2 linked regions of the Homo sapiens genome follow. Changing the gene in region 1 together with any one later gene gives a genetic interaction. Each region holds a gene or a part of one and is shown on either strand. Other genes may lie near its edges.

What was found.
Region 2: of HJURP (region 1) and CENPA, changing one enhances a phenotype caused by changing the other (phenotypic enhancement), as found in Homo sapiens cells (one study listed by BioGRID).

Annotation. Positions count from the first base shown.
Region 1 is NC_000002.12:233,851,513-233,858,893, forward strand, and holds the start of HJURP (Holliday junction recognition protein), read right to left. Parts: upstream 3,024-7,381; 5' UTR 2,989-3,023; coding exon 2,872-2,988; intron 2,399-2,871; coding exon 2,332-2,398; intron 1,110-2,331; exon of another isoform or gene 1,109-1,109; coding exon 1,053-1,108; exon of another isoform or gene 1-1,052. UniProt on the Homo sapiens protein: Centromeric protein that plays a central role in the incorporation and maintenance of histone H3-like variant CENPA at centromeres.
Region 2 is NC_000002.12:26,782,140-26,789,064, reverse strand, and holds the start of CENPA (histone H3-like centromeric protein A), read right to left. Parts: upstream 3,010-6,925; 5' UTR 2,869-3,009; coding exon 2,769-2,868; intron 1-2,768. UniProt on the Homo sapiens protein: Histone H3-like nucleosomal protein that is specifically found in centromeric nucleosomes. Replaces conventional H3 in the nucleosome core of centromeric chromatin that serves as an assembly site for the inner kinetochore.

The DNA of each region.
Region 1 (7,381 bases):
ATAAAGGAAGCCACAAATAGCTAATTGCCTATCAACAGGAGAGCAGTTAAAAAAACATGATTTTTTAAATAATTATATAATTTTATAATTATACAACAGTTGATGAAGAGAAGAGTTTGCCAGATGTATTAACCGGAAAAGTGAGGGAGAAAAAAATGCATTTATAAAGATATGTATTATAGGGAATCACATTGTACTAAAATAGCATTAGTGACCATCTTTGCAGAGAGGAATCAGCTCATTTATGTAGTTGTATGTACTTTTAACATTTTTATGACTAGAATAATTAATCAAGAAGATTTGATTTCAAATTTGCTGTTAATATCGTCACATTGATCTTGATGTTTTTCATTCTTTCATACAGGTTCCTTGACCTGTGACCACAGAGAGGAACCATGTGGCATCTGAGAGGCAGTGATTAACTGAATACCAGATAACCTGGCAAAAGCCACTGTGGCAAAAGGGCTCCTGGATGCCCCCGTAGAAAGGCCAACAGCACCTTCCACTAAAATAACGGGTCTCAGAGCGACAACACCCTCGGATCAACTAGGCAGGGAAGCCAGGGTCTTCCGAAGGTAGAAAAATGCAGAAGGAAAGATGTGTGATCCTCCAGGCTGCACCTCTCCTCATCTCTCTTCCTCCCCTTTCAAAACAGGAAGAGAGACATTCTTCTTCCCTAGAAGGAACTGGATTTGGTATTTTCTGTAAGGACCCAAACAAAGTGAGTGCCTCGCTGGGCTGGCACGTGACCTTGGGGAGGGTTACCCAACTGGCCCAGCCTCTGCACATGTATTATCAGAGCCCCTCAGCCTGTGACACAGGAAACACAGGGTGATGAAAAAGGCCAAATATTACACAGTGACTCCTTGCACTTGACAAGCTACAGAAGAAATGCTTCTAAATCCTTAAAAACAGAAAGAGTATAATCATGAGAAAAAGTGCCCCGTGGTGGCCTCTGCGTAAGCTCAGAGGTTGGGCATACCCACACCTTTATTCATATGAATACTCCTCCACAGCAAGGTTATTTGGCAATAAAATTTGACACTAAATACCTGGATCTCTCCTTCGTTTCTTTCCTTTATTAGTCTTCCACCCCAAATTCTCAATCCTGAAGAAAAGAAACAAAAATGACCATTTACATAATCCTGAACGCTGAACTTCTGCTCAATCTGTGTTCACCAGATGCCAAAGTGACAGGCAAAAAAAAGGTACAATATTAAAACCAAGCCAGGTTTCTGATACCCTGCGATTGTTCCTCTTTGTAAAGTTTCAGGTTTTTAAGGCAAATTCGTCATTCATGGAAATCTCTCCTACCTACTAGAAAACGGCTCATCAAATTACATCATTAGCCCAAAAAGTTAAATGAAAACAAGGAACATATGACAGCGACTGTCCTTAAAATATATAGAGGGCAATCTATATACCATATAGAGGGAGTAAGCACTTTTCGCAGGCAATCTCTACATCCCATATACTGAATGAATGCTTTCTAAGGGCAATCTACATGTTATACAGAGACCAAAGGGTAGCAGACCTGCCACTGGAATATTTTAGTTTCTGCCTGTGTAAACTTTTCACCCAAGATGTGTCTGGATTGGCTATAAAGGCAGAAAGGTAGGATTTCTTTTAACTCAAGGAGCAGATCTTGTGAACCTTCTGTGTCCGTTTAATGCAACATAGAACTTGCTCTGAGGTTTGTTTTCATTAAGTGATACTGAGTTAGTTATAAAGCTATATGGGAGGAATTGACCCCAGCCAGTGCAAAGTGTCACCAGCTATTTACCAAAAAGAATCCACAAGATTTCAGTCCGTTTACATTAACTATTAAACGGAATGCCTTCTCCTCCCTATTCAAGTACTTGGAGCCTCAAGGAAGACAGTTACTACTCCAAGTTAAACAGGGCAAACAATAGTCAATGTGAGTATTCACAGTGCGGGGCGGGGTACTGTTCACAGTTTCATAGGGATTGTACGTGACTGTTACAACACCCACGCCCAGGAGACATTATTGTCATCATCCTTCCCATTTCACAGATGAAGACACTGAGACCAGTCCAGCTAAGCAACTGCCCCACGCTGCCATGGTGGGGAGGTGGCCAGCGGGGATGCCAACCCGGTAAGCCGGAGGCATGTGAGCCAGGAGGCACCTATGTCTCTTCAGGAATTGTTCTAATAAGTAATTCAAGTAATTTACAGGTTTAAGGGCACCAATGTTTTGGTTCCTATTAGTTAGGTGAACAATGTTTACTTCTTAAGAGAGCAGGGACAGCATTTCAACTACTCCATTCACACTCTTCACCCGAATACTCAGAAGGTGGGGAAGACCCTTACCCTGTGGCGTCTCGTAGGTCAGCGTGGCCATTTGCACCACCGGGGTGTCCTCGAAGGGCTGGTTGTACTGCGGAGGAGGAAGGGGCTTCCTGTCAGGTTCCAGGGCCACGAGGGGCCCCAGACCCGGGAGGAGGCGGCGCCAGCCCGTGAGAGGCCGTTAGTCTGGCCTGGGGCGCCCCAAACGCGGTCTCTGCAGCGGAGCCCCCAACTCCGCCTCTCTCGTCCCACTCAGGAGCACCCCCAGCCCCACCAAACCCTCCTCTCTGCACCCGAGCCCCAGGCCTGCTTCCCCACTCCCCGTTCCGGAGGCCCCAGTCTTTCCTCCCCGTCCCCGCACCGAAGCCTTCGGCGCTGCCTCCTTTTTCCCTCTCCGGAGCCCCCAGCTCCGCCTCCACCTTCTCTCCGCATCCAAGCCCCAGTCCCGCTTCCCCAACCCCCGCTCCGAGTCCTCAGAGCCCCTTCCCTTCCCGTCCTACGTCCCCTCCCAGCCTCACTCCGACACGCAGGCCTCCCCTCCCGGCGGACCGGCGGGGGCCGCACCTTCTCTATCAGCCGCTGCATGCGCCTCTGGAAGCGGCGGCGACTGGCCCTGAGCTTCTGCAGCAGCTGGTCGTCTTCCACGTCCTCGCCCTCCATGGCGCGCAGCGTACCCAGCATCGGACCCAGCCAGTACCCAAGCGCCAACCCGGACTGCAGGGCCTCGCGCGCCACAAACTCAAATAGGAGACTCCGCCCTCCCTGCCTTCCTCTCGGTTTTCTATTGGCTAGAGCGGAGAAGCCGGGCACTGATTGGGCCTTTCAAACAAATTTGCGTCCCACCTTCCGGCCAATCCACTCCCGAGTTTCCAGCCACGCCCCAATGTCCGGCGGAAGGGAGGGAGGGTCTCCGGCCGCCACGGCCGGTGGTAGTTGTACAAACAGCTGTGTGCTTATTCATCAGCGGTGCTGTGCGAGATCCGGTGGGATGCGTGTCATCTCCCGCGCTGTGCACCGGAGATAAGTGCGGCCTGGAGATTTCTGCGTGACTTGCTCTGGGTGTCGCCGCTGGGCGAGGTCCGCCTTCCTCACCCCTCCGCCTGGGATCCCGGCGCAGTTTCCAGGGCAGGGGCCTAAGAAAGACAACCCCAAATTACCAACCCAAAAGGAGGCAGGATAGCGAATATTCATCTAGAAGGAAAAAATAAGTCTCAACGAATGACACATTTAAAGATGCTGACAAATGCGATACACATCACAAAATCCAGGAAAATACTTCTATTAACCCAGCTTTTTCCCTATGTATTTCTGATTGCATATTCTGCTTCTTCATTGATATTAATCTTGTAATATTTTCTCCAGAGAGAAGAGCAAGATAAATCAGTCTTTAGTATGGTTGATGGAATTTATGATTGACATCTTAGGAAAGTTTCATTCAGCTTCATCACTTAACCACATTTGTGTGCTTGTGCTGATATGATTACCATAGTATGTGATTGAAAATAAAAGCATTACTGAGCACCAGGAGGTCCCTTAGAGGGGGCTCTTCACCTCCTTTCAGCCTGCACGGCAATTCTATCATGATGTCCTGCGGAAATTTAGGTGGGAGTGGGTGGAGGGTAAGAACTTCAGGGCTCATGTAGTGTGTGTGTCCACAAAACGTGTTGCGTTGTGCTGGACACAGAGATGTGCTGGCCTGATTCCCCTTAAGATGCCACAGCTGCTAGGAGGGCAGTTGGCAGGGGCCTTCAGTTGTCAGCCTATTCTGGGATGATTCAGTTGCAGAGAACTCCCTCACCCAAGGTCCTGCTGCCCCAGGGTGGCCCAGCACCAGTGACTGATCCAGGTGGGAACAGGAAGGCTGTATCATTTCAGTCTGATGGAAGAAAACCCTGGGCCACTTTATCTTCCGAGCTCTCAATTCCACGGAATTGGATGGGGTAACCTACCAATCCTGTTTCTTTCCTTCCCTTCCTCCCTATATAAACATCCTCTCTGAGTCTTCTCCAGTTGCAGGATCTACACATTTAACTTGTACCTTTTCCAATTTTCACAAACAGACCGAGGTGTCTTCCTCCTCCTTCCTTAGGAGTGTTCAGAAACTTAACATGCTCTTCCTTGGACTCTGTGCTTCCCACACATAATTTACTTTTCAAACATCTAACTGGGCCCATTTAGAGACTTGAGACCTTGAATAAGATTTTCTTTTTTCTTTTTGAGTTTTGGATGATTGACTCTTCCATTGTTACCAGATAGAGTTGTCCAGGTTCTTGGTGTGTTGAACAAAGAATTGAACAAAACACACAAAGTAACAAAGGAATGAAGCAACGAAAAACAAAGCAACAGGAGAACGGAGTAAGGAAAGCACAGATTCATTGAAGACAATTCACAGAGTGCGAGCGGACTGGAGCCCGCAGCTCAAGAGCCTCTTCAATTAGGGTTTTTATAAAGCCAAAAGAACTTGGCAACACCCCTGGGTACCCTTTAGAGGCCTCCAATTGGTTACACCCTATGAAGGATTGGCCTGTGACCAATCAGAGCCTAAAGTGGAAACTTGGCCTGCAGTCATTCAGGGGCTGAAGTGGAAACTTCTTTCTTGTTATCACGGGAGTGAAGATGTAGCCTATGTCCTGCCCAATCTTGCTTAAAACTGGCTGCACCTGCTGTTCTCTTGCTTATGCGAACTGGCTGCATCTGCTGTTCCTTTGCTTATGCCTCAACCCTTTGCTACCCCAGTTCCCTATTCTCCTGCCTCACCATGACTCTCTAACAAGCACGATAGTACCAGTTTTCAAAACTGGCGTCTCCCAGGGCTTATTCTCTATTCCTGGGAAACCATTCCAAGATTTCCTTTGCTGGCTTCACTGACAATCCAAGCATCTGCCTCTGTCCTAGGAGTTTGGGGGCAGCTTCAGTGGAAAGATTTCTCAATCTCAAGTTCAAGTCTTTAATTGAAGTCCAAAACATACTTGCTTTAGCCAAACTCCTTCTGAGCCAGCCAAAGTCCATGCATTAACCCTTATTGTTCTGGCCTGGTGGTCTTCCAGTCGTCTCTGACTGGCTTTCCCCATCCCATGGTCTAAAGTGGTGCTCCAGCTAAAGAAAGAAGAACCCTGTATCATGCTTCTCATGTGATGCTGTAGCAGGACAAGCCGCAGACAAAACCCCTCAGACACCGAGTTAAAGAAGGAAGGGCTTTATTCAGCTGGGAGCTTCGGCAAGACTCACGTCTCCAACAACCGAGCTCTCCCGAGTGAGCAATTCCTGTCCCTTTTAAGGGCTCACAACTCTAAGGAGGTCCATGTGAGAGGGTCGTGATCGATTGAGCAAGCAGGGGGTAAGTGACTGGGGGCTGCATGCATCAGTAATTAGAATGGAACAGAACGGGACAGGGATTTTCACAGTGCTTTTCTATACAATGTCTGTAATCTATAGATAACATAACCGAGTAGGTCAGGGGTCGATCTTTAACTACCAGGCCCAGGGTGTGGCGCCAGGCTGTCTGCTTGTGGATTTCATTCCTGCCTTTTAGTTTTTACTTCTTTCTTTAGAGGCAGAAATTGAGCATAAGGCAATATGAGGAGTGGTCTCCTCCCTTAATGCCATTCTCTGTAACACCTCACCCTACCACCCTTGGCAGCCTAACCATATTACTCCAGACCTGCTAAGCAAACTCCTTTGCCACCACTTTCCACTCCCACATAACAGGGAAGGATCACAAGTCAGCTCCTTCCCCAGCAGCAGGTTTCTGGGTGCAGCATCTTGGAATCTCACAGGGTTTCCAGAGATGACGGCGGGTGGCTCCGGCTGCCCCTGCACAGTGCCCTCTACTGGCCGGGCTGGGATTTCCAACCCTCCAAGTGCTGTTTAAATGCCTAGGAAATAGTTCTCTTTAAAGTTATATTACGGCTGCTCTTATAAAATGTGCCTGAATTTTGCTTCAAATAAAAGAGATGGAGACTTATTCTGCATGGAGTTGTCATGTAAATATGTTTCTGTTGGAAAGGTGTGGAAATGTTACCACCAGTCTGTGGTTGGAGAAGCGCAGCTTTTGGCTGGTCCCAGCATTGACACAGAAACTGCTGTGTAACGGTGAGAATGTCAGTCTAAGATAAATTATCGCAAACATCAGACCCCACCTATTAGGCTGCTAAGAAAAGGGTTTGCTTTTTTCTGTTGCCCTAGAGCTGATGCAAACACAGAGGCTGTGAAATAGGCAACAAGCTGACTTTCCACGAGATGTCAGCCAAAGCTCACAAAATGTGTTGTTTGATTGAATGAGTCTCACATCTAACTGAAGTAATTAAGGATGCTGGCAAGAATTTAGCTGGAGGATCTTTCGTGAAGCAGTTTATAAAGTCCAATACTAGAAGGATGGCAAAATAAATGATGATAGATACTTGTGTTCTATTGGCAAGAATTTTGAAGAAGTGTAATTATTGATATCAAAATTCTATATGATCTGTTTAATACAAAAAGGTTATAAACCTGTATTATGTGTGCATTTAAAAAGTATATATTATATAATATAAAGTATGATTATACATGTTTTAAAAGTGTGAGTATATACGTCTCAGAATGTTTCCAGGGCCGTCTCTGGATGATGGTGTGATGAATTATTTTTAATATTAGTTTTCCATAGCTGCATTTTCTAGAATGAGCGTTTGCTGTGCAATTATGAGTTTGCATTACTGATGTAATTAGAAAACACAGGGGGCCAATTATCTTAGTTCATTTTGTGCTGCTATAATAAAACCTGAGAGTAATGAACCTGTAATTTATAATGAACAGAAATTTATTTCTCACAGATCTGAAGACTGGTGAGTCCCAGCCAGACTGAGTGATTGGCCTGTGGTGAGGGTCTGAGTGATTGGCCTCTGGCGATGGTCTTCTTGCTGTGCCATCTCATGGTGTAAAGTAGGAGAACAAGAGAGGGCAAGAGAGAGCAAAAGGGAGCCAAACTCATTCTTTTTTTTTTTTTTTGAGACAGTCTTGCCCTGTGACCCAGGTGGAGTACAATGGCATGATCTCAGCTCACTGCAACCTCTGCCTCCTGGGTTCAAGTGATTCTCCT
Region 2 (6,925 bases), about 210 Mb from region 1:
AAGGGAAGTAGAGGGAAATGGGAGGTATAGGGAAGTGAGAATGTGGGGTCAAGGAAACACTCCTGCCCTTTCTCTTAAGATCGTAAATACGGCCAGGCGCAGCGGCTCAGGCCTGTAATCCCAGCACTCTGGGAGGCCAAGGTGGGCGGATCACTTGAGGTTGGCAGTTGGAGACCAGCCTGACCAACATGGTGAAACCCCGTCTCTACTAAAAACACAAAATTAGCCGGATGCGGTGGTGCATGCCTGTAATCCTAGCTACTCGGGAGGCTGAGGCAGGAGAATCGCTTGAACCCGGGAGGTAGAGGTTGCGGTAAGCCGAGATCACGCCGTTGCTCTCCAGCCTGGGCAACAAGAGGGAAACTCCGTCTCAAAAACAAAAACAAAAACAAAACAAAACAAAACATCATAAATACTAGAGCATATGTGCCGATGCCAGTGTGAAGTGTCTGGATTTATCTAAGCACAGGTAGAAAGCTCCTCTGTAGGTGAAAGAAGGATATGACCAAGACCCCATGTAGAAGGAAGGGCTTTGATAGGAAGGGGGACACCTAGTCAAGGCCATTATTGGCTAAGAGTGAGTGGGGGGAATGGAGCTGTAGGAAGTCGAGGAGGGAGAAAAAGGTATGAAATAGTCATGGGGAGAATGGAAAAGCAAGAATTCCAGACAAAGGCCAGGCACGATGGCTGTTTTTTTTTTGTTCTGTAGAGACAAAACAATTTGTCTCTACAAAAAAGGTTTAAAAATAGTCAAGCATGGTGGTGCAGGTCTGTCATCCTAGCTATTCAGGAGGGTGAAGCAGGAGGACTGCATGAGCCCAGGAGGTCAAGGCTGCAATGAACCAAGATAGCACCACTGCACTACAGCCTGGATGACAAGAGTGAGACTCTGTCTCGAAAATTGAAGAAAGAATACCAGACAAAGGTGGTAGGACTGCCAAGAAGTGTTGACTGCCCATTTGAGATAAACCTTCCATTTAACCAGGAGTAGAAGGATGCTTCTACCTTGGAAAGCAACAGCAAACATCATACTTAATATTCCTGTTAAAATTACAAACAAGACAAAGATGACCAAAACACCACTCTTAGTGAGTCTCAGGGCCTTACTAGTACCATACAATAATAAATAAAATGTGTAGAAATGAAAACGGAAGATTCAAAAGTTATTTGCAGATGACATAATAGTCTACTTAAAAATTCCAACTGGAGCAACTAAAAACGACTAGGGTGAACGAGAATTCAGCAAGTTGGCTGGAAGCAAAGGTTAAATCCTCGTGTTTTGGGAAAGAAAAAAAATCCCATTCGCAACAGCAACATCTAGAAACAACCTACTCCAGCCTAGGCAACATGGCAAAATCCCACCTCTACTAAAAATACAAAAAATTAGCCGGCATGGTGGCATATGCCTGTAGTCCCAGCTACTCGGGAGGCTGAGCTGGGAGAAGCACCTGAGCCTGGGAAGTTGAGGCTGCAGTGAACCCTCGTGGCATCACTGCACTCCAACCTGGGCGATGGGTCTCAAAAAAAAAACAACAAAAAACCAAAAAGCCGGCCGGGCGCGGTGGCTCACGCCTGTAATCCCAGCACTTTGGGAGACCGAGGTGGGCGGATCACGAGGTCAGGAGATCAAGACCATCCTGGCTAACACGGTGAAACCCTGTCTCTACCAAAAATACAAAAAATTAGCCGGGCGTGGTGGTAGGCGCCTGTAGTCCCAGCTACTCGGGAGGCTGAGGCAGGAGAAGGGCGTGAACCCAGGAGGCGGAGCTTGCCGTGAGCGGAGATCGCGCCACTGCACTCCAGCCTGGGCGACAAAGCCTGACTCCGTCTCCAAAACAAAACAAAAAACCCAAAAAAGCCTGTAGGCACAGTGGCTCATGCCTGCAATCCCAGCACTTTGGGAGGCCCAGGCAGGAGGATCACTTGAGGCCAGGAGTTTGAGACCAGCCTGGGTAACACAGGGAGACCCAGTCTCTACAAAAAGCAATGAAACAAATAAACTACAATACACTTCCCATCTTCCTCATAGCTACGTAGCAAGAGTTAAGAGATAAGTAAAGCAGCTGTTGCCACCATGTACCATACAGGCATCTGCCTCCTCCTGCCGTTGGGTCTCCCATCCACCAGCCCACCATAGACAATTAAGACACAGACTTCGGCCCCTTTTCCCGGACACAAGCTCTGGAAGGCAACAGAGTGAGCAGCGCAGAGGGCCTCGGTTCAAGGCCTAACAGCCTCTCCCGGAAGGGAAAAAAAACCCCTGAAAGACACCTCCTAAGAGGACTCCTGTTTGAAATCGTCACCGAAAGCAGTCAATACTTTTGCAATTTAAAAATGCACAAACACAGAGGATTGGAAATCCCGTGTCCGCCAGAACACCAAGTTGTGTGACTCTGCTCAAGCTCTCTGGCCTGTGCCTCGGCTTTCTCATTAGCTGTAAAATGGGCACAATATGAAGCTGAGATAACGCACGAACAGTGGGAGGCAATGCCTGGTTGGCGGTGGGCGGTGGGCGCTGGGTAACCACTAGTCCTAACAAGAAGACGGCGTTAGGAGCCAAGTGGCTAAGCCGGTCCCTTCCCGCTTTCGGAACCGCCTGCTCCAGCCCCTCGCAGGGCTGGCACCGCCCGTGCCCGGAGCGGATGCCGGACGGCGGAACCGCGTTGTCCCCCAACAGGGAAGTGCCACGGGATCGGGACTCGGGAGATCCGGGCTCCGCCTGCGAGCCTCGGTTTTCTCCTCTTCGAGATGGGGCCGCGGCCGGTTACCTAAGGAGGGGCCCCGCCGGGAGGGGCCGGGGGTCGGGGTCGGGCTCGGGCTGCGCCTCCTCGGGGCCTCGGGCTTTCGGCTCCGGCGGCGCGGGCCCATGACACGCCGCAGAGGGTGCTGGCGCCCGGTCCCACGGCTCCTGCTCGGGCTGCCGGGTCCGGGAGCGAAAGGCTGGCTTCTGGGGAGCCCAGAGAACGCTGTGCCGCGAGCCTCACATGAGCCGGTGCTTGGCAGAAGTCCGCGCCGCTCGCGTTCAAATCGCTCGCTCCGCCCACTTCACGGCCGGCGTTTTTTAAAACCCGAATCCAGCGACTCCCAGTGGCTGACTCTGGAACGCCCCTTACGTAGAGCGACTGCAGGTAGGGCCAATGAGAGTATGCACCGAGACACAAATATAGCGGCGATGATAGGAGGACAGGGGAGACTGATGGTAAAATCAACCAATAGACAACTAAAGAGATGGGGCGGGAAATTCTCCTGCCCCCTGCTTGCCAATCTGGTTGCTGGTCTTTGCGGGACCGTACTGACGTCCTCAGGTGCCCTCCAGTCAAAACACCGAAGCTCAGTTTGGAACGTGGATGGTGTGTTTGTAGAACGTGCTTTCTAGAAAAGTCGCTTTCCTCAAACATTTTATGCTTTGCCTTAGCAACGCAGAGATGGCTTTTAAAGATGAGGAAACAGACCCATAGAGAATGTGACAACCCCGTGTCGTATCTGCGACTCTCCCAGGAACTATCCACAGATATACTCAGAATCCAGTTCAACTGCATAAACTTTGCTGACGCTTGGGGTCGCGGGGACGGCGGGATCGGCGGGGCTTTGAGAATAAGGTCCGGGCAGGGCAGGCCTCGGCACTATAGCAACGCAATCGTCCCAAAAAAATGCTCTCTTCCCTTTGTTGGGGATAATAAAAATTCAAGTCATGTCCCGGTATGTAGAATAAGGGGAATTTTAATTTTCTAAATTTTATTTCTTGCATTTTCTAAATGTTCTACAGTGAACATGTAATCAGGAAAAATGTTATAAAATTAGTGATTTCATGGAACCCTTGTGCATTGCTGGTGGGAGTGTAAAATGCTGCGGCTGCTGTGAAAAATAGTATTGGTGGTTCCTCAAAAAATCAAAAATAGAATTACCAGATGATCCAGTAATTCCACTTCTGGCTAAATATCCAAAAGAATTTAAATATAGCCAGGGACTTGAACAGATATTCTCACACCCATGTTGATAGCGGCATTCTTCACAACAGCCCGAAGGCAGAAACAGCCTGAATACACACCAACAGATGAACGGATAAACAAAATGGGGTGTATACCACAATGTTATTCAGCCTTTAAAAGGAAGGGAATTCTGACACCTGCTGCAACATAGATGAACCTTGAGGACGTTATGCTAAGTGAAATAAAGCAGTCCACCAAGGGACAAATGCTGGGCTGGGGTGCGGTGGTTCATGCCTGTAATCCCAGCGCTTTGGGAGGCCAAGTTGTTCGGAACCACTGAGTTCGAGTTCGAGTCCAACCTGGCCAACATGGCGAAACTCCATCTTGCCGAGCGTGGTGGCTCACGCCTGTAAACCCAGCACTCTGGGAGGCCGAGGCAGGCAGATCACCCGAGGTCAGGAGTTCAAGACCAGCATGGCCAACATGGCGATACCCCGTCTCTACTAAAAATATAAAAATTTGCCAGGTGCTGTGGCTCACGCCTGTAATCCCAGCTACTCAGGAGGCTGAGGCAGAGTTGCTTGAACCTGAAAGGCGGAGGTTGCAGTGAGCCGAAATCATGCCACGGCACTCCAGCCTAGGCGACAAGAGTGAGACTCTGTCTCAAAAAAAAAAAAAAAAAAAAAAGAGAAGGGGAAGGAGAAGGAGGAGAAGGAAGAAAGAAACCCCACCTCTACCAAAGATACACACACACACAAATTAGCCCGGGCGTGCAGATGTATGCCTGTCGCCCCAGCTACTCAGGAGGCTGAGGTGGGAGAATCGCTCGAGTCCAGGAGGTTGAGGCTGAACTGAGCCATGATTGTGGCACTGCACTCCAGCCTGGGCGACAGAGTGGCACCTCTCTCAAAAAAAAAGAAAAAAAAAAAGGACAAGGCCGGGTGTGGTGGCTCATGCCTGTATAATCCCAGCACTTTGGGAGGCTGAGGCCAGTGGATCATGAGGTCAGGAGATCGAGACCATCCCGGCTAACCTGGTGAAAACCCGCTTCTACTAAAAATACAAAAAATTAGCCGGGCGTGGTGGCACGGGCCTGTAGTCCCAGCTACTCGGGAGGCTGAGGCAGGAGAATTGCTTGAACCTAGGAGGGGAAGGTTGCAGTGAGCTGAGATTGTGCCACTGCACTCCAGCCTGGGCAATAGAGCAAGACTCTGTCTCCAAAAAAAAAAAAAAAAAAGGACAAATACTGTATGAGGTACCTGGAATAACGGAACTCATAGAGACAGAAAGTAAAATGGTGGTTGCCAGTGAGTAAGGGAGGAATGGGGAGTTAGTATTTAATAGGTGGGGAGTTTTAGTTTGAGAAGATGAAAAATTCTGGATATGGATGGTGGTGATGGTTGCACAACACTGTGAACGTGCTTAACGCCACTGAACTGTACACTTAAAACTGGTTAAAATGGTAAATTCTATGTTGTGTGTGTGTGTGTATATATATATATATATATATTAACCCCGCCCCACAACCGGGTCTTGCACTATTGTCTAGGCTGGAGTATAGTGGTGCAATCACAGCTAACTGCAGCCTTGAACTGCTGGACTCATGCAATCCTCCCACTTCAGCCTCCTGAGTAGCTGGGACTAACAGGAATGTACCATCACACTTGGCTAATTTTTTTTTTTTTTTTTTTTGAGATGGAGTCTTACTTTGTCACCAGGCTGGAGTGCAGTGGTGCGACCACCACTCACTGCAACCTCTGCCTCCCGGGTTCAAGCGATTCCCCTGCCTCAGCCTTCCAAGTAGCTAGGACTACAGGCGTGTGCCACCACGCCCAAAGTGCTGAGATTACAGGCGTGAGCCACCGCACCCTGCCACTTGGCTGATTTTTTAAAAAACATTTTGTGGTGCCATGGTAACTCTGGCTTATCATATAGCCCTTATTATATAGTCATGTATATATAATAAAGGCATTATACAGTTCCCATGCTTAACAATGGGGATATGCTCTGCGAAATGTGTTGTTAGACGATTTTGTCATTGTGCAATCATAAAGTGTACTTACACAAACCTGGATGGTATAGTGTATCACACACCTTGGCTATATGGTATAGCCTATTGCTCCTAGGCGACAAACCTGTGCAGCATGTTCCTGTACTGAATACTGTAGGCAACTGTAATGCAATGGTATTTGTGTATCTAACATATGTAACCTAGAAAAGGCACAGTAAAAAAACAGTATAAAAAATGGGCTGGGTACACTGGCTCACCCCTGTAATCCTAAAATTTTGGAAGGCCAAGGCAGGAGCATTGTTTGAGCCCAGTAGTTCGAGATCAGTCTGGGCAACGTGGTGAGACCCCATCTCCGCAGGAAATAAAAACAATTAGCTGGGCACGGTGGTGCATGCCTGTAGTGCCAGCTACTCGGGAGGCTGAGGCAGGAGGATCACTTGAGCCCAGGAGTTTAAGGCTACAGTGAGATAGGATCATGCCACTGCACCCCAGTGACAGCAACAGATCAAGACTCTGTCTCTAAAAAGAAAAATTTTCCTTCTTCAATAATAAATTAATCTTAGCTTAATGGTAACGTTTTAACTTTATAAGCTTTTGAACTGTAAAATTTGACTCTTGTAATAACACTTAGCTTAAAACACACACTGCAAGTATACAAAAACATTTTTTCTTTATATCTTTTTTTTTTTTTTTTTTTTTTTGAGACGGAGTCTCACTCTGTCGCCCAGGCTAGAGTGCAGTGGCCCGATCTCGGCTCACTGCAAGCTCCGCCTCCCAGGTTCACACCATTCTCCTGCCTCAGCCTCCCAAGTAGCTGGGACTACAGGCCCCCGCCACCATGCCCGGCTAATTTTTTGTACTTTTAGTAGAGACGGGGTTTCACCGTGTTAGCCAGGATGGTCTCGATCTCCTGACCTCGTGATCCACCCACCTCAGCCTCCCAAAGTGCTGGGATTACAGGCGTGAGCCACCGCACCCGGTTTAT